7 linked regions of the Homo sapiens genome follow. The protein of the gene in region 1 purifies or fractionates together with the protein of each later gene. This does not show direct contact. Each region holds a gene or a part of one and is shown on either strand. Other genes may lie near its edges.

Region 1 (3,500 bases):
AACAATTAGCTTATTCCTTAGCTCACCATACATTTTTAAAAACCCAAACTTTTTTTTTTTTTTTTCCCTGAGACAGAGTCTAGCTCCATTGCCCAGGCTGGAGTGCAGTGGCCCAATCTCAGCTCACTGCAACCTCTGCCTCCCGGTTCAAGTGATTCTCATGCCTCAGCCTCCCGAGTAGCTGGGACTATAGGTGCACGCCACCACACCCAGCTAATTTTTTTATTTTTTGTAGAGACGAGGTTTCACCATGTTGGCCAGGCTGGTCTCGAACTCCCAACCTCAGGTGATCCGCCTGCCTCAGCCTCCCAAAGTGCTGGGATTACAGGCGTGAGCCACCATGCCCGGCCAGAAAACTAAACTCTTAAAAACTTGTACTAAATCTTAATAGCATTTTCTAGTTTACAATGAATGTCCCAATAATAAACTACAAAGCTCCACACATGTGTATGCTCAAAAAATATCTCGTGTAGGTACACTTTTAAAGTCAATGCTTTCACATAAAATTTGCAAAGTTTCCAAATGAGGAAAATACGAGCAAGCTGTTGAGTAAAACAACCTTCACCATCAGACACTGCTGCAAAGTGACGGCATTCACTTACTGGCTCTGTGTATTCTCTCCCGGACTTCCATGTATTCCTGTTCGTGCTTTACAGCTGTCATCGCCACTGCTAGCTCATTGATCATTTCTTCTAGCTTGTTCTGGTGAGCTATAGAAGGATTTGAAAACAAAACACATTTGTCAATGTCTTTTTTTTTTTTTTTTTGAGACAGAGTCTCGCTCTGTTGCCCAGGCTGGAGTGCAGTGGTGCTCAATCTCAGCTCACTGCAACCTCTGCCTCCCAGGCTGAAGCGATTCTCCTGCCTCAGCCTCCAGAGTAGCTGGGATTACAGGCACACGCTGCCACACCCAGCTAATTTTTGTATTTTTAGTAGAGACGGGGTTTCACCATGTTGGTCAGGCTGGTCTTGAACTCCTGACCTCAGGTGATCCACCTGCTTGAGCCTCCCAAAATGCTGGAATTACATGCGTGAGCCACTGCACCCAGCCATCTTTTTTTTTTTTCAAGACAGGATCTCACTCTATCACCCAGGCTCAAGTACAGTGGTGCAATTATAGCTCACTGTAACCTAAAATTCCTGGGCTCAAGCAATCCCCTGCCTCAGCCTCCTGAGGGGTGCGTCACTATGCCTGACTACCATTTTATTTTTATTTTTTAGAGACGGGGTCTCGCTATGTTGCCTAGGCTGGGGCAATCTCTTTTTGAAAAACACTTATAAAATAAATATAAAATATAAAATAATATAAAATAACTTTTCAAAATCCTCAGAGAAGGCCTGCAAAAGAAGCTACTTTTGAAATGGTTCAAACATCAATTTGGACTACTGATATGAATCATGTCAATTTAATTCTCAAAGCATTTTTAAAAGTCCCTTCCCAGTAGAGAAACCTCTTTCAGGGTAGGAAACATACTATATAATGCTTACTAAGGAAAGGAAAACAACCCCAGGAAATTTCTTCTAATGGAATGTTGTTATGTGAAGTTCACTATACTGACTATTAACTACAGCAAAAGTAGTAAAACACTGAGGAGAGGGGACTAAGAGCACAAAATAAATACCTGTATTTTTAAAATGTAATCCTACAAATAAAGTCTAAGAGTCATGTAACTCTAATATTAATTAAGAAGCAGGAGCAGCACCAAAACAGACTCTTAATCTCTATAAAGCTGAGCAGAGAAAAACATTAAAACGCTCTTAGGAAAATCCACACCAACTCAAACATTCTTCTTTGACAAAGTAATAGTTTCACTATAGTGGGGAACAGCAGGCAATGTAAGTAGAGAGACAAGCCCTTAGCGGCACAAGTTTTCAACCAGGCATCCCTCTTGAACCAAAAATACACACAAGGCACTGTTCTGAAGAGTAAGCATGTGCTTCTAGGTAGTGCCACGTTATGAGAATGAACAGACAGGCAGGAGAGAAACAGCACCAGGAAACCTTCCTGGGAAAGGGGGATCTCTTCATCCCTGCCCAAGACTGGGTCTCTTCTGGGATTCCAGATTCTCGCAGACAACCCCAAGTTTCTTAGGAGAAACCAAGGGCCTCTACCATTGAAGGCAGTTGAATTGGAATGTCAAACCGTCCCTCACTCGAAATTTCCCTTTGGAAGCCCCATGCACCACATGGAACTGATAGAGCAGGGTTTCTCAGCAGTGGCATTGTCTCCATTTTGGACCAAATGCTTTTCTATGCTGTGGGGCGCTATCTGATGCACTATAGGGTATTTAGCAGCCTCCATGGCCTCCAGTCCTAGATGCCTGTAGCACCTACCCCCAGTCTTCCGAATAAAAAATACCTCCAGATATTGCCAAATATCCCCTGGGCATCCTCACTTGAGAACCACTGCTTTAGAGGAAGGCTTGATTTGACAGCTGCCATTCACTGACATTAACAAGCAAAAGCAAGAATTTTGGATATATGTTAAAAAATTATCTAAGAAGTTCAATATTCACATTCATCAACCAACATTTTCAAACTATTTAAGTAGGATCAAACTCCAGAAAATAAACCAAAAAAGCCTTTCAGAACTCCTCATTCTCCCTGAAAATTAGTCAAGTCCTACCCTATAAGTGGCCCTGAAAAATGAGTGCAGGAATTACTAAGTAGTAGGACTCTCTAAATTCTATAGATTTCAAAATCCAACCAAACAACTCAGCTTCTTTATGATGTTAACACTCTACTGATACTGAATATCTGGGAGAAATGTTACCACGCTAATAGTATACTATGAAATGTGTGAAACAATGACTAGCTTCAAAAACTCTGGCATGCACTGTGGGGAAAAAAAAAACAAAAAAAAACACCACCAAATGTGCTGGCTCCCGGTAAGCAATTTATCCAGAACCACCAAGAACCAATCAGGGTTTATTACTGGTAACCTGAGCAATGAACACTCTAACTGCAACATATGGCTAAAAGAACTCTTGTCTTCATATCAACATATGGCTCCTAGAACTGCATTTCATATCCAACTAAGCTTCAGGTTAAGAAGTCTACAAAATGACTTTCTACAAAGTCAAAGGCACCATTTGCTATGAGCTATGTTTAATTGGGACTTCTGTCCCCTTATCATTGAATTTCCACTCTTTAGCATTCATCTTAAAGAACAAAGATGTTACTACTAAAATGTCAACTGTGTTTTCAGTGCTATTAGTTTAAAATAACCTAACCTATACCTCCTGTCAACGAAATAAAAAACCACCAAAAAAAATATCAATCCAATTAGTTGTAGGGGTTTTTTAAGAGAAAAAAACACTCTCATGCCAACAAACTGAGGTTAGAAAAAAGAAAGCAGAAATTAGACATTAGCAAACAAAAAGATGCAAAAAGGATGCTGTCAAAAAGCAATCCACATACCATCCCAGGTATCTCCACCACCTAAAGAAAAGTTAAGATATCTTAACACAAAAAGAACCAACAAAAAGTTTAGCTAAACT
Region 2 (3,426 bases), about 67 Mb from region 1:
GGCAGCTCACCTTTGTGCTGAAGCTGCCCTACGCCTGGTCAAACCTGGAAATCAGGTAAGCTATTTTATCCAATTCCAAAGCTCGTTTGAACCAAAGATGCATTAGGCACCTATAGCTACTCTATATGAAACTACCAACCTCCCCTACAGACCCCTTATAAAACAGCTTTTTAAAATTAGCTATATTTAGCTGGGCACAGTGACTCACATCTGTAATCCCATCACTTTGGGGGGCCAAGGTAGGAGGATAGCTTGAGGCTGGGAGTTCAAGACCAGCCTGGGAAACATGGTGAAACCCCATTTCTACAAAAAATACAAAAATTAGCTGGGCGTGGTAACATGTGCCTGTATTCCCAGCTTCCAGGGAGGCTGAGGTGGGAGAATCACCTGAGCCTGGGAGATTGAGGCTGTGCTGAGCTATGATCATGCCACTGCACTCCAGCCTGGGCAACAATGAAACCCTGTCTCACAAAAGAAAAAGGAAAAATAAGCATTTGCTGTCCCCACAAAACAGATTAGAATGCCAGGTAAAAAAGGATAAACACTGGACTTAATATTATAGGCATGTGGTGGCACATGCCTGTAATCCCAGCACTTTGGGAGGCCAAGGTGGGAGGATTGCTTGAACCCAGGCATTTGAGACCAGCTTGGGAAACATAGCGAGACCCGTCTACAAAAAGAAAAAAGAAAACCCAGGTTTATGACCAAGTTCTTTCACTTAACACTCATTTAACCTGGGGCAAATCATTTAACCTGAGACTCAGTTTCCTTGTCTTCTAGATTGGGATATACATCTGCCCTGTTCACATGCAAAATTTATTGAGTTAGACCATCTTTGTGAAAGCACTGGGTAAAATGATATGCAGTTACAGCTGGTCCTCAGCTTGATGCTACATTCAGTAGAAGCTATACTTTGAGTACCCATACAACCATTCTGTTTTTCATTTTCCATATAGTATTTAGTAAATTACATGAGATATTCAACACTAATATAAAATAGGCATGTGTTAGATAATTCTGCCCAACTGTAGGATAATGTTTTTTAAGTGCTCTGAGCACATTTAACATAGGCTAGGCTGTGATGTTAGGTAGGTTAGGGGTATTAAATGCATTTTTGACTTAGTGATATTTTCAACTTATGAGTTTTTTGGAGATGTAACCCCATTGCAAGTTGGGGAGCATCTGTATAAAGTATTTTTAGATTGTAGGGATAATCAAGCTATGAAATGAAAAACCAGTGAATGACAATCATTGGGGCTTGATGGAGGATATTAGAACGCTCAGTTCTGCCAGGTGCAATGGCTCATGCCTGTAATCCCAGCACTTTGGGAGGCTGAGGTGGGCAGATCACGAGGTCAGGAGATCGAGACCATCCTGGCCAACATGGTGAAACCCCGTCTCTTCTAAAAATACAAAAATTAGCTGGGCGTGGTGTTGCGTGCCTGTAATCCCAGCTACTCAGGAGGCTGAGGCAGGAGAATAGCTTGAACCCGGGAGGCAGAGATTGCAGTGAGCCAAGATCACGCCACTGCACTCCAGCCTGGTGACAAAGCCAGACTCCATCTCAAAAAAAAAAAAAAAAACGCTCAGTTCTTTTATGCTTCTTATTCTCATTGTAGAGAACTTATTAGCTCCTGATATCTCACCTTTCATTTGATGTTGTACTTCTAGAACACACAAGTGACAGAAGCCTGGAACAAAGTTGCCCACTCATTTAACTGCACGCCAATAGAAGGTGAGAACAGATAACAGGGTTGAGGGTCTAAGAATGAGTGGCTTTGCCAGGTGCGGTGGCTCACGCCTGTAATCCCAGAACTTTGGGAGGCTGAGGTGGGCGGATCACCTGAGGTCAGGAGTTTGAGACTAGCCTGGCCAACATGGTGAAACCCCGTCTCTACTAAAAATATAAAAATTAGCTGGGCGTGGTGGTGGGTGCCTGTAATCCCAGCTACTTGGGAGGCTAAGGCGAGATAATCGCTTGAACCCGGGAGGAGGAGGTTGCAGTGAGCCAAGATTGCGCCACTGCACTCCAGTCTGGGCAATAAGAGCGAAACTCCATCTCCTCCATCTCAAAAAAAAAAAAAAAAAGAATGAGTGGCTTTGCAGAATTGAGGCTTTTGCTCCCTTGAAGATCTATCCTGGCTATAACCCAGTCTAAGCCAGAAATCTCAGAGCCCTGTGTTTCCATAACCAGGTAGTTGTCTCACTGCCTACCACTTCAAACTACTGAAGTGGGTGGATTTGGAAACCTTTTGGGATACTGGATAGCTTGTTCCATAGGTTGTGTACTATCTACAGGTATGCTGTCACACCAGTTGAAGCAGCATGTCATCGATGGAGAAAAAACCATTATCCAGAATCCCACAGACCAGCAGAAGTAGGTGCCAACCCTACTTATTACCTTCTACCACACAAGACTAGTCATCAGGTTTTTTTCTATACTCCCAACTGAATCTTGTCCGCCCTCTACTCCATGTTTTCAGGAGTGACCTGTTGCTCTTAATATTCCCTTTCTCTAGGCCGGGCGCGGTGGCTCACGCCTGTAATCCCAGCACTTTGGGAGGCTGAGGCGGGTGGATCACCTGAGGTCACGAGTTCAGAACCAGCCTAACCAACATGGCGAAACCCTGTCTCTACTAAAAACTACAAAAATGAGCCAGGCCTGGTGGTTTGTGCCTATAGTCCCAGCTACTTGGGAGGCTGAGGCAGGAGAGTTGCTTGGACCCGGGAGGTGGAGGTTGCAGTGAGCTGAGATTGTGCCACTGCACTCCAGCCTGGGTGACAGAATGAGACTCTGTGTCAAAAAAAAAAAAAAATTCCTTTCTCTCTATTCCTTTTAGGAAGGACCATGAAAAAGCTGAATTTGAGGTACATGAAGTATATGCTGTGGATGTTCTCGTCAGCTCAGGAGAGGGCAAGGTGAGGAGAGTACCAGAGTTGGCAAAGAGGGGTGACTGAGAGTGTTCACCAGACCAAATGTTACTTAAATTACTCTTTCAGGCCAAGGATGCAGGACAGAGAACCACTATTTACAAACGAGACCCCTCTAAACAGTATGGACTGAAAATGAAAACTTCACGTGCCTTCTTCAGTGAGGTGGAAAGGCGTTTTGATGCCATGCCGTTTACTTTAAGGTACTAAGCAATGATAGTACTTGGAACCAGTCTGACTCACAGACCATACACCCAGGAACACTTTTTCCTCTCCCTTCCTGCCTAGACTTGTAGCGTGCATGTGCTCACTCCCTCCCTCTCTCTCCCCATCTCCTTCTCATTGAAGGTAATGTAAAAGAGCAATCCTAAGCATGATTTCTGCCTGAGGGTAGGAGCTATTTTAAAATATGAGCAAAATGGTAAGACTTGATGGGGAGTTAAAGATACCTCTGAATATCATCTTCCCTGCCAGAGCATTTGAAGATGAGAAGAA
Region 3 (4,114 bases), on another chromosome or scaffold:
GCCGTCCGAGCGCACCTCCATCCGCCCTCGCGACGCCCACGCTGGCCCAGACGCGGGATTTGGGGTGGAGGACGCTGGGCTGGGAACCAGCACCTTGGGACGGCCGGGTAGTTCGGGCCTTGAGGAGTCCCACACCCTGACAGCTGGCGCCCCCCACGCCCCGCCTAGCTCTCCTCGGCCTGGGGACACCGGCTGCCAGGCCTCTCCAGTTTCAGCCTTTCCTGGGAGGACTTCCTGGAAGAGGGGGCTTCAGGCCCCAGAAAGAGAGGCTGCTCTGGGGGATGGAGGAGGTGCTGGGATGGTGACTCCGCGGAGTCGAGGGTGTGAGGCGGGATGTGGGCAGGCCGTGAGGTTTGTGTTGCAAGACTGGGAGGCAGGATGAGGGGAGGCCATGGGGCGGCTGGAGGTGCGGCCTGGGAGCCCTGCGTGCTGGGCCCTGGGCAGGGACGGCAGGCGAGGCGTGTGGAGGAAGAGCCGCGAAGAGCTGGGCGCTGTCTTCTCCACGCCTCCGTTTCTTCATCTGCTCCTGGGGCCGCCTGCCCGGTAGCGGAGATTGAATCGCATGTTGACGTCTATTACGATGATTAATGTTCTTGTCATTCCCGTCACTAGCAGGTGAGAGGCTGGGAGGCCTCAGGTGGGAACATACCTTTGGCCAAAGGCACCAGGTAACCCGAACGCCCCGGGGAGGACCCCTGCCTGCATCGCCGCGGCCGTCCCCCCCTACCCCGTCCCCAGCAGCTCCGGCTGGGCGAGGCCCTGCTTCTCCCTTCTGCTCCCGAAGACCCCCCGGGGCGCAGACCTGGAAGCCTCGAAGCTCCCGCGGCCGTCCAGTCCGCCCCCTTCTGAGCAACCAGAGAGCGGTCTGGGCCCGGCCCGGGGCTGCGCAGAGGTCAGACTGCCGCGGGCAGGGCCGGAGCCTGCTCTGGGGGTCGCGGAGGTGTCTCGAGAGTTGAGGACCCGACCCGGGCGCGCGCGGGCGCAGGTATGGGGAGGGCGCGGCGGCTCCTGGCCGGTCCTAGGAGCCTGCGGGGACCAAGGGCGCGCGGGCGGGGCCGGGGGCGCGGCGAGGCTCGGGTTGGGGCGGGGCGGGGGCGGGGGCGGGGCCGGACCCGGGGAAGCCGCCCGCCCGCGGGGACGTCCGCACCGCGAGGGTTAAGGCCGGGAGCCCGGCGGGGCGGGGGCGGTGTGCGCGCGCGGATTGGGGAAAAGTTTGGCGGCGGGGCGGGGCACGGGGGAGGGCTGACGCGCGCGGATTGGCCGGAAGTTGTGCCGGGGGCGGGTCGGGGGTCCGGGCTCGGCGCTCGCTCCGGGAGAGTTGACAAAGCCCCGCAGGGAAGGACGCCTCGCGGCGCGGCGCCCCGGGCCCCTCGCCCCGCCGCCCCGGGATCCCGGCCCCGGCCCCCGGCCCCGCGGACTCGCCCCCGCCGCCTGCCCGGTCCGGGACCCCGCGCCCCGAGCGCCCGAGCCCGGACCCCGACCCGGCCCGAGCCGCCCGCGCCCAGGTAGCGCCGCCCCGCCCCGAGACCGGGCCCGGGGGCGCGGGGCGGCGGGATGCGGCGCCCGGGGCGGCGATGACCGCGGAGCGCACGCCGCGGGCCCGGCCCTGACCCCGCCGCCCGCCCGCTGAGCCCCCCGCCGAGGTGAGCCCCCCGCGCGCGCGGCCGCGACCCCAGGTGGGCACACGGGGGAGGGCGGGGGTCCGGGGCGGGGGCGGGGAGGGGCGGGTTCGGGGCCCCAGCTGGGCACGGGTCATGCGCGCCGCCGCCGCTCCTGCGGGCCCCCGGCCTGCCCCGCCCCCGCCCCCGCGCCCCACGTGGGCCCCCCCCAGCGCAAATTTGTCCGCTAATGGCGCAGGCGATTATCTGCGGGGCGCTGAGTGTTGTGTGTCCTGCGGGCAGGGCCGGAGTTACAAGCGCCAGGAATCCAGACGGTGTTTGGAGAGGGGGGGCGGCGGGGGAGCCCGGTAATTAGTGTAAACCCTTTGTCTGCCTTTGATACCCACAGCTTCTCCCCGCTGCGGCTTCCTCCGCCTGGAGCGCGGGCGGGGAGGGCCTGTGGGGAGGGCGGCCAGACCCCTGATCCCCGCGGCCCGGGACCGGGGAGGGCGGTATCTCCCAGTTCCACGTGTTAGTGACGGCGCCCCCAATGTCCCCAGGTCCGGACAGGCCGAGATGACGCCGAGCCCCCTGTTGCTGCTCCTGCTGCCGCCGCTGCTGCTGGGGGCCTTCCCGCCGGCCGCCGCCGCCCGAGGTGAGTTCTGGCGCCCAGCCCGGCCAGCCTGGCCTCCGCCAGCGCCGCCCCCTTCCCGCCCGGCCCTGAACCCTGCCACAGTGCCCGCCTGGCACGCGCCATGCCCCGCCCCTGCCGCCCCGCTCGCCAGGCCCCCTTCCTTCCAGGGCCCCCTCACCCATGGGCTGTCCACAGCACCCACCGGGGCTCCCCTAGCTGGCTGGAGGGGTTCCCCTCATGCGTGCTTGCTGGCCAGGTGGGCTTTAGTCCTGGCTCCCCAGGACATGCTCCTGGTCTTGCAAACACTTTCATACTCGTACCTGCAGTCCAGGGCAGCTAATCACCTGTGGATTCTTGGGGAGTGGGCGGTTTGTGGCCACAGTGGACCCGATAAGGACTCTGGGAACCTGCAGAGACCCCCACGGAAGGCAGGATGGGCTATGGGAGATATTGGTAATATACTTGGTGTCTGGGACTGAAACTGACCCCCAGACCCCCAGTCCCCCAGCCGACCTAGCCGTGTGCCCTGGGCCTGCCCAGCTCTAGGCAGGCAGTGCCGGGCGGTTGTGTGGACAAGTCCCCAGAGCCGTGACGCACCCCAGGACTGCGTGCCTCTGGGCACACGCTGTGCTGGCCTGGTACGTGCTCATGGCACCGACATCTAAGTGGCAGCCATGCCCTGGGACCCAGCCCCAGCAAGGACATCCGGAGCCGATGGGTGACGTGTGCCCGCAGACTCATGCCCGCCATGTTCCAGGATCCGGGCACAGCGCTGGCTGCCCCCATGGCTAGGCGGGACCTGTGGCCAGGCCGGCCCTTTGGGCGTGTTGACCACTCAGGATTGTCCGCGCTGTGTCCACCAGTCCTGAGGCTTCGCACCCCTCCCCTGCCGCCCAGCAAGCGCGCCGCATCCAACCTGGCCTTATATGGGCACGTTCGGGTGCTGGGTGGCGGGCGGTGACCAGGTGGGCCTTATGCCACAGCACCCCCCCCTACCCCCCGCCTGCCCACATGGGCCTGGCTGAGCGGCTGCTCTGAGGGCCCGGCAGCGTCCTGGGCTGTGTGGGCACTCAGGCCATACTGGGCGAGCCCCTACCATGGCCAGCGGCCTGGACTTGCATTCTCTTTGATCTGTTTGGCCTCCCCAATCCCTACACCTGCCTGTCCTCTGGCCACTCGGCCAGGGAGGCTCTGGAGGCCTCTGTCCTGCCATGTTTCCTGGCTGGGGCTGAAGCTGACTGGTGGATGGCCACGGTCAGCCATGGCAGTGGGCGGCAGAGCCCGCCTCTTCGTGGAGACGCCCCAGCGGCCACCCCCTTCGCCTTCGTCCTCCTCAGCTGCGGCCTTGGGGCTGAGGATATCCAGCCCTGGCTTTGCGTGGCAAAGGCCCTGGCGGCACTGGGGAGCTGGGATCAAGCTGCTTTCCAAGGGCAGGGGCCTCTGTGGTTTGGGTGGAGGTGGGGAGGAGGTTCTTCCGGACTGTGCTGATTTTCCTAGCGTGGACTAGGGCGCGAGGTCCATCCAAGTGTGTTTCTCCTGCTCTGAACAGCCCACTGTGCACCTTCGTTAGGCCAAGGACCAGCATGCAGAGGGCTTGGGTTATTTTTGAAAAGCCATTTCCCGCTGGGTCATAAGTTCTGGAATCGGCACATCGCTACACTCAGATCATATTTTAAAAGTTCCTCTTTTCCCAAACTTTCACAATCTTGGTGGATTTGTCTTAAACTGCTTTTTTTTTTTCCAATTTGAAAAAATATAGGAATTGGCTTTCTCCCTTTCCATTTTATTTCTCACAGTGGGAACTTGAGAGGTTCTGCATGAAATGTCTTTCACAAATAACTCTGAAGGAAGTCGTTTCAGGGCTTTCTGAGAAGTGCCACCT
Region 4 (4,103 bases), on another chromosome or scaffold:
TTTTGCCACTGCACTCCAGCCTGGGCGACAGAGGGAGATTCTGTTTCAAAAAGAAAAAAAAGAAACGGCGTCCAACATGATCAGTCATTAGATGTAACTATGTAAAAGTCAGCTTTAGATTAGTTTATATGGTATTATTACAATTTCAGGCTCTTTAGTTACATATTGATTTTTAAACTCCCTCACTTTGTTCCTTCCCTCTGTTTTTTTTTTCCTGCTCTCATAACTTTATCAGGCCTTTGAAAAGTTCATGGGTCCCAGACACTGTGTGGGAGGGTGTGGAAGTGAGTGTGGATGTGGGCTGCGGTGGAGATAGGTGTGTGTGTGAGACCGTGAATCACAGTGACAGGTAATGCAGGGTGACTGTCTGAGGCCTGAGAGTGGGGCCCATGTGCAAGCCCAAGAAAGTGGCTGGTGTGAGAATGAGGGTGTTCAGACTATTGAAGGGTGTTTGGATGAAAGAGGCAGGTGCGTGTGTGTCATGGTGAGTTCCCAGAATCCAGATAGAGAATGAGGGTGAGGATGGTGAAGGTCAGAGGGTGAAGGAGTCTGATAAGCTGAGGGTCCCTGTGTGACTGTGATTTCTGCAGGCACATGGGTGTGAGGCTTGAGAAACTGGGTGCATGGATGATGGTGACCAACAGGAGGGTGAGAGTGTTATGTGTGTGTGCAGGACTCACATGTGATTGTGAATGTTAGATGTTGCAGGCAGTGAGCAGTGGCAGGTGTGTGTGTAGGGCCTGGGCGTGAATATGCACGTTGGTGCAAGAGTGAGTGAGAATGACTGACTGATGGGGTGAGCGTGGCCGGGTGCCCGTGTGATTGTGCATGTCAGATATTGGTGGGGATGAGTGTCACAGCGCGCGTGTATAGGGCTGGGATGTGATTGTGAATGTGGGATTTTGCGGGGGGTGCGGTGGCAGGGTGCGCGCACGGCGGGCGTGGGCGGGGGGCGCGTGGCCGGGTGGGCGCGCGTGGGGGGCGCGGGCGCGGGCCGGGGGCGGGGACACTGCAGCGGTCGCGGCGGCGCGGACACGGCCCGGCCGCCCCCCGTGGCAGGCGCGGCGCGGCGCGGAGCGAGCGGGCGCAGCGCGGAGCTCGGGCCCATGGTGCGCCCGTGTCCGTCGGTCGGGCCGCGCGGGCGCTCCGCGCGTGGCCCGGCGCTCGCGAGCTCGCCCCCTCGCTGCGGGCCCGGCCCGCCCGCTGCCGCCGCCTCCTCCCCCGGGGCGGCGCGGCGCCGGCGGGCGGCGGCGCGGAGGCCGGACCGGGCGGCGGCCCAGGCGGCGCGGGGGGCGCGGCGGCCAAGGCGGGCGGCGCCGCCGACATGACGGACAACATCCCGCTGCAGCCGGTGCGCCAGAAGAAGCGGATGGACAGCAGGCCCCGCGCCGGGTGAGTGGGCCTGGGCCCGTGTTTTCCTTTGTCCGCGCCTCCCGGAGCCCGGCGCTCGGGCCAGCCTGGCCGGGCCTGACAGGTTGGCCGCGCGCCGCGCCCGGCGCCATGAGCCTGGGGCAGGGCTGGGGAGGCGGGGAGGTGGGGAGGGGGTCCCTGCGCTTCAGCCCCGGGCGGCACCTAGCCTGATGCCGGCCCTTTGGGGTTCGAGCGCCCGGTTGCCTGGGCCTCCTTGCCCACCTTCCTTTAGAAACCCCGAGAAGCCGGGCCCGCCCCAGTGCTGTTTACACACTCGCGGAATTCGGATCAGCCGTGCTTTCTCACCGTTTTATTGTTCCGTAATTAATATCTGTCCGTAATTAATATCTGAGGTAACAATTTGGTCAGTGTCACACCGAGCTCTGCGCTTGGAGCATTACTCGGGAGCCCAGATATGCTCAGCTTTTAGGGGGGCGCGGCCTACGCCTCGGGGTACCCCATCAGCGCCCCTGGGTCCCAGCCCCAGGAGGCTGCGCCGAGACCACCTGCGCTCCGGTGGCCCCTTCCCCCTCCGCCCGGGGTGGACCCGAACCAGCAGTCGCAGGAGGGTGGGAGGGTCTCCTACTGGCCGCTTGGTGACACTACCCCTTGTGTTCTCCCCCCACAATTTCGGGGAAGGAATCCCACGGCTGGGACAGGGGCTGCCACCTGCTGTGCCCTTCCCGCAGTAGGAGACCCCGAGGGCAGCTTAGGCGCGGAACAGGCAAGGGTTTTTCTGCATTTGGGAAGAGGGGACGGGTTGGTATTTTGCGCCTCGCCGTCTTCCTGTTCGGAGGATGGCAGCGTGACGCGTTGAGGTTTGCGGGGCTCTCGTATCGCCTGCCATAGACTTACCTGGGCGTGAGGGGCGGGGGTGGGAAGGACGGGGGTGGGCGCTGGTGCAAATGCAGATTTCCCGGCCCCCGCCTAGACCCGCCAATCAGAGTTCTGGGGGGCGGGGCCTGGAGATGTGCAGCTCCACAGGCCGCGCAGGTGAGGCTGGAGCCCGCGGGAGGCTGAGCGCGGTGTTGGGCGGGGCCTGCGGCCGCTCTGCTCCGCCCTTCCTCGGGCGTCTGGTCCTCTCTGGGCATTTCCCGGTGGCGGCCGCTTATTGCAGCGTCAGTTGCTCGGAACAGGAGACGCGGCGGGTGGAGTGAACCATAAGGGTGGCTTCACCAGGTGTCAGTGGAATTAAAAAAAAAAAAAAAAAGAATGGTGCTGGCGGCCATTTTGTGGGGTCTTTGTCCCTGGCTTCCTGAATCCTCCGAAGAAGAGGCCTCACTGATATTACCCAGAGGAGGAAACTGGAGGTTACGGAGGTTAAGGGCTATAGGGAAGACTGCAAAATGGAGATTGAACTCCGGATTGTCTGACCCAAAGATAGTTCCCTCACTCCTCCCTTCTCTGTTTTGCGTTTATTATTATTAGTATTATTATTATTATTGAGACGGAGTCTCCCTCTGTTGCCCACGCTGGAGTGCTGTGGCGAGATCTCGGCTCACTGCAACCTCCGCCTCCCGGGTTCAAGCAATTCTCTGCCTCAACCTCCCGAGTAGCTGGGATTACAGGCGCCCGACACCACGCCTGACTAGTTTTTGTATTTTTAGTAGAGACGGGGGTTTCACCATCTTGGCCAGGCTTGTCTTGAACTCCTGACCTCGTGATCCACCCACCTCGGCCTTCCAAAGTGCTGGGATTACAGGCGTGAGTCACCGCGCCCGGCCTCCTTCGTTTTAATGATGACAATTGACTTGAACACTATGCCTGGAACAGTGCCTGGTACATCGTACATCCTCCGTAAATACTGTGATGAATTAATATGATCAGTGGAGTCTAAAATCCAGTGGTTATTAATTTGTGCCATGAGCAATTATGAGACGCCTACTATGTGCAGGAGCCACTCCAGCTGATGGGGATGCAAGGATGAATTAAAGAAGACCTGCCCAACAGGTGTGGGTGTCCTGACCCTGGCTGTTCATTGCAATCACCAGGGAAACTTAACTAGCCTTTTCTGATTCATTCTAGACCTTTGAAATAAGAATTTAGGGTGGGACCTGGGTTTCTATCTATATATTTTAATAAGCTCCCCTGATGATTTTAACATGCAGTCAGAGTTGAGAACTTTTGAGTCAGTACATGAAAGAAAAATGCAAATATTGTTCAAAAGTGATCATTAGCGTGATAGAAACATGAGCCGTTCATATGGAGAGCCAGAGGGAGTGGTGCAGATAATTTTATTTAAAAGTAAGTTTTCTAGGTTGCGTTGGAATGGAGCATCACAGCCCCTTTAGAATTTACCAGCTTTGGAACTAATCTTTCTTTTTTTTTGAGACGATGTAGTTTCACTCTTGTTGCCTGGAGTGCAATGCCTTGGTCTTGGCCCACTGCAACCTCTGCCTCCTGGGTTCAAGCGATTCTTCTGCCTCAGCTTCCCAAGTAGCTGGGATTACAGGTGCCCACTACCACTCCCGGCTAATCTTTGTATTTTTAGTAGAGAGAGTTGTTTCACCATGTTGGCCAGGCTGGTCTTGAACTCCTGACCTCAGGTGATCCACCTGCCTTGGCCTCCGAAAGTGCTGGGATTACAGACGTGAGCCACCGTGCTTGGCCTGGAACTAATCTAATTCTGTTTTTTTTTTTTGAGATGTAGCTTCACTCTTGTTGCCAAGGCTGGCACGATCTCGGCTCACTGC
Region 5 (3,500 bases), on another chromosome or scaffold:
ACATTTGCAGACGATGCGGTTGGTGAGTAAGCTAAGGAGAGAGGCCCAGTGGGGGCATCCACAGGCTGACATGGACCGTGGAGGGGTGGCACTGTTTAAGCAGCCCAGCACACCACTTTCTGGTGTGGTGGCTCCTGCAGAGGCAGGATTCCCCAGGCTGGCGGGTTTTCCTAGAAATTCAACCTAGAATCTACTACTCCATAGCCCTTGCAATGATTTCTGAATTAAATCCTTTTCTCCTATAAATTAATTCAAGTAGATTCAGTAGACTGCAAGCAAATCCTGAAACATAACTAGGATTTGTATGTGACAGGAATTAGAAGAGGATCAATTATTTAATTGTTGTTGATCTTATGCAGTACAGAAACACCCTGCCAAATTCATTAATTTGGTCCCGATATTAAGAATATTCCTCTGAATATCCTGTCCTCTTATCTCCCCACTCACACTACCTCCCACCCCAAGAAGGATGCGGAGGAGCAAGAGGGGCAGAGCCCTTGTAGTCAACCAGACTTACCCTATGGGATGACTCAACAGTACACTGAATTTTGAGTCCAGCTTTTAAAAGTGTGCAAACATGACACACCACCTTAAGAGCTAGTGCACTTTTCACACATTACCCATGACTTCCTACTGGTCTAAAACCTGAGCATCTTAGGAAGGTAAGTTTAATTCTTGTGCATTCTCTTCAGTGACTTTTTCAAGGACTCAAACACTGACATAAGTGAAGGGACAGGTATAATTTTTTTTTTTTTTGAGAAGGAGTCTTGCTCTGTCACCAGGCTGGAGTGCAGTGGCGTAATCTCCGCTAACTGCAACCTCCGCCTCCCGGGTTCAAGTGATTCCCCTGCCTCAGCCTCCCGAGTATCTGGGACTACGGGCGCGTGCCACCATGCTCGGCTAACTTTTTGTATTTTAGTACAGATGAGGTTTCACCATGTTGGCCAGGATGGTCTTGAACTACTGACCTCAAGTGATCCACCCACCTCAGCCTCCCAAAGTGCTGGGATTACAGGCATGAGCCACCGTGCCCGGCCTAAATATTCTATCCTTTATATGAAAAAAAAAATACGGCACTAAAAAGCTAAAGACTTTGCCAAAATTAGATAATCTTCTCAAATTAAGTTCCCCAACCTCAAAAACCTCAGCTTCCAGACTCAGGCCCCTCAATCTCGGAGCCAAAATCAATCTAAGGGTACAGCGACTCCAGACCTTTCAATTTACAGAAGGGGTAATTTCATTCAGCAAAGGCAAGACCTCAGACTGACCTCATTTCAAGGCTGGGACCCAGCAGTTGCCGGTGATGTCCTTGGACAGGTCAGGAGACTTACTTGCCAGGCCTACCTAAAAAGTGTATCCCAACTACCAAAACCAGAAGGAAATTACGTATGAAATATAAAATATCACAGCAGTCCTCCCTTACCTACAGTTCCGCTTGCTGTGGTTTCAGTTACCCACAGTCAACCTCAGTCTGAAAATAGTAACATGGAAATGCCAGAAATAAACAATTCATAAGCTTTAAACTGCCCGCCGTTCTGAGAAACATGATGAAACTGAGTGACATCCCGCTCTGTCCCATGACCATCCCTTTGTCCAGCTTCTCCGTGCCATCTAGGCCACCTGCCCGTTAAGTCACTTGGTAGCTGTCTTGCTGATCACATCAACTGTTGCGGATGTGATCACGGATAAAAGTGAACACAAGCCACTTTTATTTGGCTTAATATGGCCCCAAAGCTCAAGAGTACTGATGCTGCAATTTGGATATGCCAAAGAAAAGCCATAAAGGGCTTCTTTTACGTGAAAAGGTAAAAATTCTTAATAAGAAAACAATATCAAATAACAAGGTTGCTAAGATCTACAGTAAGAACAAATCTATCCATGAAATTATGAAGGAAAAAAGTTTGCACGTAATACAAATGGGGTTCAGTATTATCTGTGGTTTCAGACAACTACCGGAGGTCTTGGAATGTATCCCTCAAGGATGGGGGTGAGTACTCTATTATCATAAACAGGAAATGAGGAAGCCCAAGAGATGCTGTGCTGAGGGACACACACTTGGACGGAAGCAAACTGGGGCAAAATCCTCCTGGTACTGACCAGCTTAGGCTAGTCTTCCTTTAAATTGAGCTCACCTCACACAACTGTCAATTACACATGTATGGGGAGCAATCACATTATCCTAAAGCCTCATTTTAATCTACCATTCTCACTTAATTCTCTGAGTTTCTTACCAGAGCTGCTAACATATAATAATAAAACTCACACTCAATTCTATCTCAATTTCTACTCTTCAGCACCCTCTGCTACAGGTACTGGCCAACATAAAACAAGAGGCAAGAAAAAGACTCACATATCCATTAGGCGGGTCATTTTAATCCTTGAAAACTGAGTTTACTTCCTACCTAAGCTTCCATCCGCTTAATACCAAGGTGATCAAGTCTGTGTGCTAAATACAGGAAAAGCCTTAATAGGAGACCCTGCTACCAATTTGTAGGAAATAGGACAAAAAAAAAACAAACCACAACACTTTGAACTTCCACTGTTGAGTATGCAAACAGCAAAATCCAGACTATAGGGAAGTCAACAAGTCACAAGGCCCAAGTTTTTCAACAGATAAAGTAGAAGCAAAAAACTGTAAGAAAGGAATGAAGAGAGAACCTACAGATTAAGAAACTTAAACGACTTACCAGTATAGCCACATGATAAATACCATTAAAAGAAAAAGGAATGAACTTTCGGCTGGGCGCGGTGGCTCACGCCTGTAATCCCAGCACTTCGGGAGGCTGAGGCAGACAGATCACAAGGTCAGGAGATCGAGACCATCCTGGCTAACACAGTGAAACCCAGTCTCTACTAAAAATACAAAAAAATTAGCTGGGCGTGGTGGCAGGCGCCTGTAGTCCCAGTTACTCGGGAGGCTGAGGCAAGAGAATGGCGTGAACCCAGGAGGCGGAGCTTGCAGTGAGCCGAGATCGCACCACTGCACTCCAGCCTGGGCGACAGAGCAAGACTCCGTCTCAAAAAAAAAAAAAAAAAAAAAAAAAGGAATGAACTTTCAATCCACTCAATGGATACAATGGATATTGCTAGACAAAAGAAGCCAGTATGAAAAGGCTACAGACTGTATGAACCCAATGATATGACATTCTGGAAAGGGAAAAACCTCCGAGATGGAGACGAGACCAGTGGTTGTGGAGAGTTAGAAGGTGAAGCACAGGGATTTCTTGGGGCAGTGCAACTGTTCTGTACAGTACTGTAGTTGTGGATGCCTCTGTCAAAATCCACTGAGCTTTAAAGCACAAAGAGCAAACCTTAATATATGCGATTTTAAAAATAACTGATGAGGCCCTATGGAATGCAGGCTGAGGCAGAAGAAACCAATTGTATTACACATATAGGACACAACTCCGCCAAGAGGGGTGGGGAGGGAAGTACCTAAGTAATGTGGAAATGAGGAGGGAGTGTAAGACTAAAAGCAAAAGGAACTGTAACTGAGCACT
Region 6 (2,548 bases), on another chromosome or scaffold:
GACTCAAGTATCTCTCTCTTCTTTCCCCTCAGACGATTGCCTACAGCATTTTATGGGACTTGAAGTTTTTGATGAGGTATGTGCATTCTGGTTGGTTTTAGTATACGCTCCTTCTACAGGTTGAGCATTGCAAATCCAAAGTCTGAAATGCTCCAAAATGGGAAAAATCTTGGGCACCAACATGACGCTCAAAGGAAGTGCTCATTGGAGCATTTCAGGTTTTGGATTTTCAGATTTGGGATGCTCAGCCAATAAGTATATAATGCAAATATACCAAAATCTGAAACACTTTGGGTCCTAAGCATTTCAGGTTAGGGATACTCAATCTGTATTTCTAAACTCAGTTAACTATTGGTTTGAGTAGACTTCTCTGGGTCTAAACCAAGCTTGTCCAGCCTGTGGTCCACGGGGTGAACATGGCCCAACACAAACTCAAAAACTTTCTTAAAACATTGAGAGTTTTTTTTGTGATTTTTAAGTTTTATTTTTTAGCTCATCACCTATCATTAGCATTAGTGTATTTTATGTGTGGCCAAGACAGTTCTTCCAGGGTAGCCCAGGGAAGCCAAAAGATTGGACCCCCCTGTCTAAATTGTGCCTCTTAGAAACAGGTTCTGAAGAGGATGTTGCAGAGCCCCTAGAATAGTAGAGACTGAAGCCGTCTCTTCTGACCCTTATTTCACGGGTGTGGGGACTCCGGGTCTGAGTGGAGGACAGACCTGACCACGGGGACCCAGCTGGTCAACACTGAAGCTGTGACTAGGACTCGGTTGTGTGTGTGTTCAGGTAGCCTGTCACTGTCGAGTTGTAAAGATACCTCTGTCTCCTGAGCTATGTAAGGTTTTACATGGGTGTAACTCGAGTCTGAGGTCCTGTGCGCATGCCTGCCTGGTCCTGCTTGGCAGATCACTGGGTTTGGAGAAAGGGAAGTAAGGGCCTTCTTATACTGGCAGCAAGGTCTCCCTGCACCTGGTCTCACAGACAGGCCAGATCCTGGTGAGGCTTAGCTTCCAGCCCACATATCTGTTCCTCAGGAACCTGGCCCTGGGAGGAGGCCTGTTGCTGCTCCTAGCAGAATCCCGTTCTGAAGGGAAGAGCATGTTTGCGGGCGTCCCCACCATGCGTGAGAGCTCCCCCAAACAGTACATGCAGCTCGGAGGCAGGGTCTTGCTGGTTCTGATGTTCATGACCCTCCTTCACTTTGACGCCAGCTTCTTTTCTGTAAGTATTCCTACTTGCCTGAACCGGTCTGGTTTCCTGTGAATGCTGTCCCTCCCCCACCCCCTCCCTGCTCACCCCTCCCTGGTTGGGTATTAACCACAGCCTGGGGGAGCTGCTGAAATGGAGCAAACTTTTTTTTTTTTTTTTTTGAGACGGAGTCTCGCTCTGTCCCCCAGGCTGGAGTGCAGTGCGTGATCTCGGCTCACCGCAAGTTCCGCCTCCCGGGTTCACGCCATTCTCCTGCCTCAGCCTCCCGAGCAGCTGGGACTACAGGCGCCTGCCAACACGCCTGGCTAATTTTTTGTATTTTTAGTAGAGACAGGGTTTCACCGTGTTAGCCAGGATGGTCTCGATCTCCTGACCCCTCGTGATCTGCCTGTCTCAGCCTCCCAAATTGCTGGGATTACAGGCGTGAGCCACCGTGCTCGGCGGAGCAAACTTTTTGATCCCATTAAAACAGACCAAAACATCGTCAATCTCTTGTGTGTCAAGCCTTCTTTCCAGCAAATGAAGGCCAGAACCTCTGACCTTGGTGGAGTGTGCTTGGCCCTTGGTTGGCCAAGGCTCTCCACCCGGGCTCCCCTTACTCTTCTTTCTTTCCTCACTGTTCGTATCTTTCTCAAGTAATTCCTGTGTGTCAGGTGTCAGGGGCAGGCCTCCAGGAGCTTCCAGAGCACACCTCCGGAGCTGACTGAGAGCCCTGGCCGGGTAGTGTCCAGGAAGAGCTCCTGGCGCCATGGAGAGAGGAGAGAGGATGTTTCTGGCCTGGATGGCTGGGTGGGCCAAGAAGCACTTGGGAATTTAGTTATGGATTAGAGATTCATCTTGGTAAATCACAGCCTGTTACTAGTTGGGAACTTCAGTCTTCCCCAAACCTTCCACATTTCAAAGCTGGTGCTTTATTGCCTCCTGCCTCCCTTTGGCTTTTATCTCCCTACTTGCACCAGCAGCCGTCTCAGCAGTAGCTACATCAGCCTGATGGATAGAGACTTCATGACGTGCAGCAGCTGGAACTTTTGTTTATAAAGCATCTCTTTTCCTCACATTTATTTTGAATTTCTTACGTTTCAACCTATGCAGATTGTCCAGAACATCGTGGGCACAGCTCTGATGATTTTAGTGGCCATTGGTTTTAAAACCAAGCTGGCTGCTTTGACTCTTGTTGTGTGGCTCTTTGCCATCAACGTATATTTCAACGCCTTCTGGACCATTCCAGTCTACAAGCCCATGCATGACTTCCTGAAATACGACTTCTTCCAGACCATGTCGGTGATTGGGGGCTTGCTCCTGGTGGTGGCCCTGGGCCCTGGGGGTGTCTCCATGGATG
Region 7 (3,500 bases), on another chromosome or scaffold:
TGCAATAGCACAGTCTTGGCTCACCGCAACCTGTGCCTCCTGGGTTCAAGCAATTCTCCTGCCTCAGCCTCCTGAGTAGCTGGGATTACAGGCGTGAGTCACCACGCCTGGCTAATTTTGTATTTTAGTAGAGACGGAGTTTCTCCATGTTGGTCAAGCTGGTCTTGAACTCCCAACCTCAGATGATCCACCTGCCTCGCCCTCCCAAACTGCTGGGATTATAGGCGTGAGCCACTGTGTCCAGCCTTTCTTTCAGTACTTTAAAGAAGGTGTTTCCCTCTTCTGGCCTATATTTTTTCCCTAACAATTGGTCAGTAGTCATTCGAATTATTGTTTCTCTGTATGTAAAGTATCATTTTTCCATGGAAATTTTAAGACTTTCCTTTTATCCTTGTCTATGAAGTACTTAGTTATAGTTTTCTTTGTCATTTTCTTGCTTGCTTTTGTTGAGTTTCTTACGTATATAACGTTATGTTTGAGAAATTTTTGGCCATTTCTTAAAATATTTTTTCTTCCCATTCTGTCCCTCGTCTCTTCTGGTACTCCAATTACACGTATATTGAACCTTTTAATATTGTCCCACATGTCCCTGAGGTTGTATTCATTTTTTTTTTCAATTTTTTTTATTCTTCTGTCTTCAGATTGGATAATTTCAGTTGATTTATCATCCTCAATTCACCAAGACTTTCTTCTGTCGTCTATATTCTACTGTCAAGCCTATCACATTGAAATTTTCATTTCAGATATTATGTTTATTAGTTCTGGAATTTCAAACTGGTTCATTATTTTTTTTTGTTTGTTTTACTAAGATTTCCTTTCTTCTCATTCATTATGAGCATATTCATTTATGTCCTAAGCATAGATATAATAGCTTCTTTATTAAAATTCTTGTTTGCTACTTACAAAATCTGCATCATTTTATGGCTAGAATCTGTTGATTATATTTTTTTTCCTTGAGAATGGGTCACTCTTTCCTATTTCTTTATGTGTGAATGGTTTTGTTTTGAATTCTGGATGTCGTGTTTTGTTCTCAAGATTTTATTTTGTTATTTCTAAAATTTCAATTACTTTTTATCAGACAGTAAGTTGGACTCAAACCCCAAACTCTGGCCTATGATAGAGAGGCATCAAAACTCAGTTCAGTTATTTTTGCCTTAGCTGGGCTGCTTTAAGTCAGTCCAACAAATACATTGTGCCATTGTTCAGTCAGAAATTTCAGCTAAGTTTATACACAGAATTCAGGGCTCCTCCTTCCTAACTCTTTTTCTTCTCTCTGATCTCCCTCCTCACATCCTGGCAGCTATGTTTGTCCCAAACTCTTCTCATTCTTCAAGCCAGAAATATCTGTGGCTATTCTATTGGAATTTTACTTGCCCTGCATACTGCAAACTGGGAACTTCCCTCAAGATAAAAGCCATAAAAACCCTAAATTCATCCCATGCTATTTATTTTAAACATTGAATGAAGATTTCGGGGTCAAATATGCTGTAAAGACCCTCATGGCTTAAAAATTCTACAATTGTATGAAAATTTTATAGAATAATATCCATGGAGAATAAAAAATATATACAAAGACATAAAACTAAAGATGTGACATAATTAGATATATGCCTATCCTTAGGAAAACCAAAAATTCTGGATGTATAAATTAAGCCAAGGGAATTTTTATTATACTTGGAAAACAAAAAACAATTTTATAAATCTTCTTCCTTTCTTAAGAGGTACATATTCCTTTGCCTCTATTCCTCTTTGTGGAACCTCTCTTCATGTTCATTCTCCTTCAGGAGAGAGACCATGTTACTTGGTGACATTAATCTAATCTTGTAATACTATTTGTTTGTGAACCTGAAAATGTTCTTTCTTATGCTATAGACTTGGGATTTCTATCTTTGTAATCCAGGCTTCAATCTTAAATTTAAAAGCCAATGAACTTGATATTTGTGTGAAATATTTTATTTCTTTTTCTAAATCTTTAGATAAAACACTTTTCTTCAAAGATTACCTAGGCAGATAAGTAGATGTTATTTTTAAAGTATTTTCATGGCTGGAGAACTTCTAGAAGACAAAAATGCTGGAGGCTATCTGGGCGTTAGTGTGAGAATTTTCTGCTGGAGAATCATTAATTTGTTGTCTTTCTACAATTTAGGCAGTCACTGAGGAGAATATTGCTTCTTTGCAGAAGAGAGTGGTAGAACTAGAGAATGAAAAGGGAGCCTTGCTCCTTAGTTCTATAGAGCTGGAGGAGCTGAAAGCTGAGAATGGTATGTATAAAAGAAAACCATAATTCTCTGTCTTCTTATCCCACAAGTGCCTCTACTTTTATCACTAATTATGTATAACATGTAGAATTCTCTGATTCCGTGATAATAAAGATTTAGATAATAGAGCTGGTAACTATCAAAGATAATACACATTAAACAATTAGAGCATAGTATCAGTGTTTACATAAGTATAACATTTTGCAATATGGACTATACATGCTGCAGGATTTCTTTATAACTCATAATCATTTTGGAATGGTCATCGTATCCTATAGGAAGTATGGCTTGAACAGGACCTTAATAAGATGATTTTTAAAATAGGTAAAATGAAGAAAGAAAGGACATTCTGGTAATAAATTTGTGGGATGAGGTAACAGAGATCAGTATAAAGGTTTAAAGGTAGAAACTATGTTGTGAGTGAGTGGTTTATGCTCGTGCTGTACCCTGCTTAGAATCCTGCTCCTTTCCTTTAGTCTGGATGATTGTTACTCATCTTTCAGGCCTCGACTAGCATATTATCTTTTTCAGGAATTTGGTATTGGTCCCCAAAAGTTGGGTTAAATGATTTTTTTGTGCTTCCATAACATCCTTGTATACTTTTAACATTGTATTAAAATGATCTGTTTATATGTTTGTCTTTTTTACTATATTATAAGCTCTTCAAAGTTTAAATATAAGCTCTTCAAGGGCAGGGGCCATTTTTTTTTCCATCTTTGCTTTACCCAAAACTAGTATACCACCTGGCAAATAATGGCTACTGAATAAAGTTTTGTTGGATTGAACTGAACTTAGCATTTTATCCTATTGGATTGTGTGTGAACAGTTAGTGAGAATGAAGACGTGTCTCCTTCCACTTATCATATGCTTCATGTAGACTTTATGGATTTAGTAGCGTGTCGTTAATGCTTTATTGATCTAATTCATCTTTAACTGACTACTACACTTTATCATCTAGGAGTGAGAATGAATAGCAAGTAAAGGTTGTAAAACTTTTATTAAACTCTAGAGCCAGTATTTCTAACTTAACCATTTTACAGTTTTCCACTTAGATCTAAATGGAAGCTTATGCACTTGTATTAGACGATTCCCACTATTTCTAATAAGTAAAGAACACCACAAATTCAGCTCATTATTTAACCCATTCAGAGCACTTCTTTGAGACCTTATCCATGATGCTTATTTTGCAGTTTTGCAAACAGTCTGTATCCTATCCATGTGGCTTCACATGGTTTGGAGGTA

Evidence for each region.
Region 2: the proteins of TMED2 (region 1) and PA2G4 purify together in Homo sapiens (affinity purification with mass spectrometry; 2 studies listed by BioGRID and IntAct, with this or other methods). This does not show direct contact.
Region 3: the proteins of TMED2 (region 1) and FGFRL1 purify together in Homo sapiens (affinity purification with mass spectrometry; 2 studies listed by BioGRID and IntAct, with this or other methods). This does not show direct contact.
Region 4: the proteins of TMED2 (region 1) and ATP9A purify together in Homo sapiens (co-immunoprecipitation; 3 studies listed by BioGRID and IntAct, with this or other methods). This does not show direct contact.
Region 5: the proteins of TMED2 (region 1) and USP22 purify together in Homo sapiens (affinity purification with mass spectrometry; 2 studies listed by BioGRID and IntAct, with this or other methods). This does not show direct contact.
Region 6: the proteins of TMED2 (region 1) and SURF4 purify together in Homo sapiens (co-immunoprecipitation; 2 studies listed by BioGRID and IntAct, with this or other methods). This does not show direct contact.
Region 7: the proteins of TMED2 (region 1) and GOLGB1 purify together in Homo sapiens (co-immunoprecipitation; 3 studies listed by BioGRID and IntAct, with this or other methods). This does not show direct contact.

The regions. Positions count from the first base shown.
Region 1 is NC_000012.12:123,587,552-123,591,051, reverse strand, and holds part of TMED2 (transmembrane emp24 domain-containing protein 2 isoform 1 precursor), read right to left. Parts: intron 3,442-3,500; coding exon of another isoform or gene 3,421-3,441; intron 711-3,420; coding exon 603-710; intron 1-602. UniProt on the Homo sapiens protein: Involved in vesicular protein trafficking. Mainly functions in the early secretory pathway but also in post-Golgi membranes.
Region 2 is NC_000012.12:56,107,559-56,110,984, forward strand, and holds part of PA2G4 (proliferation-associated protein 2G4), read left to right. Parts: coding exon 1-55; intron 56-1,671; coding exon 1,672-1,735; intron 1,736-2,298; coding exon 2,299-2,377; intron 2,378-2,840; coding exon 2,841-2,919; intron 2,920-3,000; coding exon 3,001-3,134; intron 3,135-3,405; coding exon 3,406-3,426. UniProt on the Homo sapiens protein: May play a role in a ERBB3-regulated signal transduction pathway. Seems be involved in growth regulation. Acts a corepressor of the androgen receptor (AR) and is regulated by the ERBB3 ligand neuregulin-1/heregulin (HRG).
Region 3 is NC_000004.12:1,010,312-1,014,425, forward strand, and holds the start of FGFRL1 (fibroblast growth factor receptor-like 1 precursor), read left to right. Parts: upstream 1-1,314; 5' UTR 1,315-1,643; intron 1,644-1,660; exon of another isoform or gene 1,661-1,676; intron 1,677-1,829; exon of another isoform or gene 1,830-1,966; intron 1,967-2,152; exon of another isoform or gene 2,153-2,158; coding exon of another isoform or gene 2,159-2,174; coding exon 2,175-2,253; intron 2,254-4,114. UniProt on the Homo sapiens protein: Has a negative effect on cell proliferation.
Region 4 is NC_000020.11:51,765,591-51,769,693, reverse strand, and holds the start of ATP9A (probable phospholipid-transporting ATPase IIA), read left to right. Parts: upstream 1-1,303; 5' UTR 1,304-1,324; coding exon 1,325-1,392; intron 1,393-4,103. UniProt on the Homo sapiens protein: Plays a role in regulating membrane trafficking of cargo proteins, namely endosome to plasma membrane recycling, probably acting through RAB5 and RAB11 activation. Also involved in endosome to trans-Golgi network retrograde transport.
Region 5 is NC_000017.11:21,033,012-21,036,511, forward strand, and holds part of USP22 (ubiquitin carboxyl-terminal hydrolase 22), read right to left. Parts: intron 1-3,500. UniProt on the Homo sapiens protein: Deubiquitinase that plays a role in several cellular processes including transcriptional regulation, cell cycle progression or innate immunity.
Region 6 is NC_000009.12:133,363,513-133,366,060, reverse strand, and holds part of SURF4 (surfeit locus protein 4), read left to right. Parts: intron 1-32; coding exon 33-76; intron 77-1,034; coding exon 1,035-1,221; intron 1,222-2,301; coding exon 2,302-2,548. UniProt on the Homo sapiens protein: Endoplasmic reticulum cargo receptor that mediates the export of lipoproteins by recruiting cargos into COPII vesicles to facilitate their secretion.
Region 7 is NC_000003.12:121,701,242-121,704,741, reverse strand, and holds part of GOLGB1 (golgin subfamily B member 1), read left to right. Parts: intron 1-2,146; coding exon 2,147-2,261; intron 2,262-3,500. UniProt on the Homo sapiens protein: May participate in forming intercisternal cross-bridges of the Golgi complex.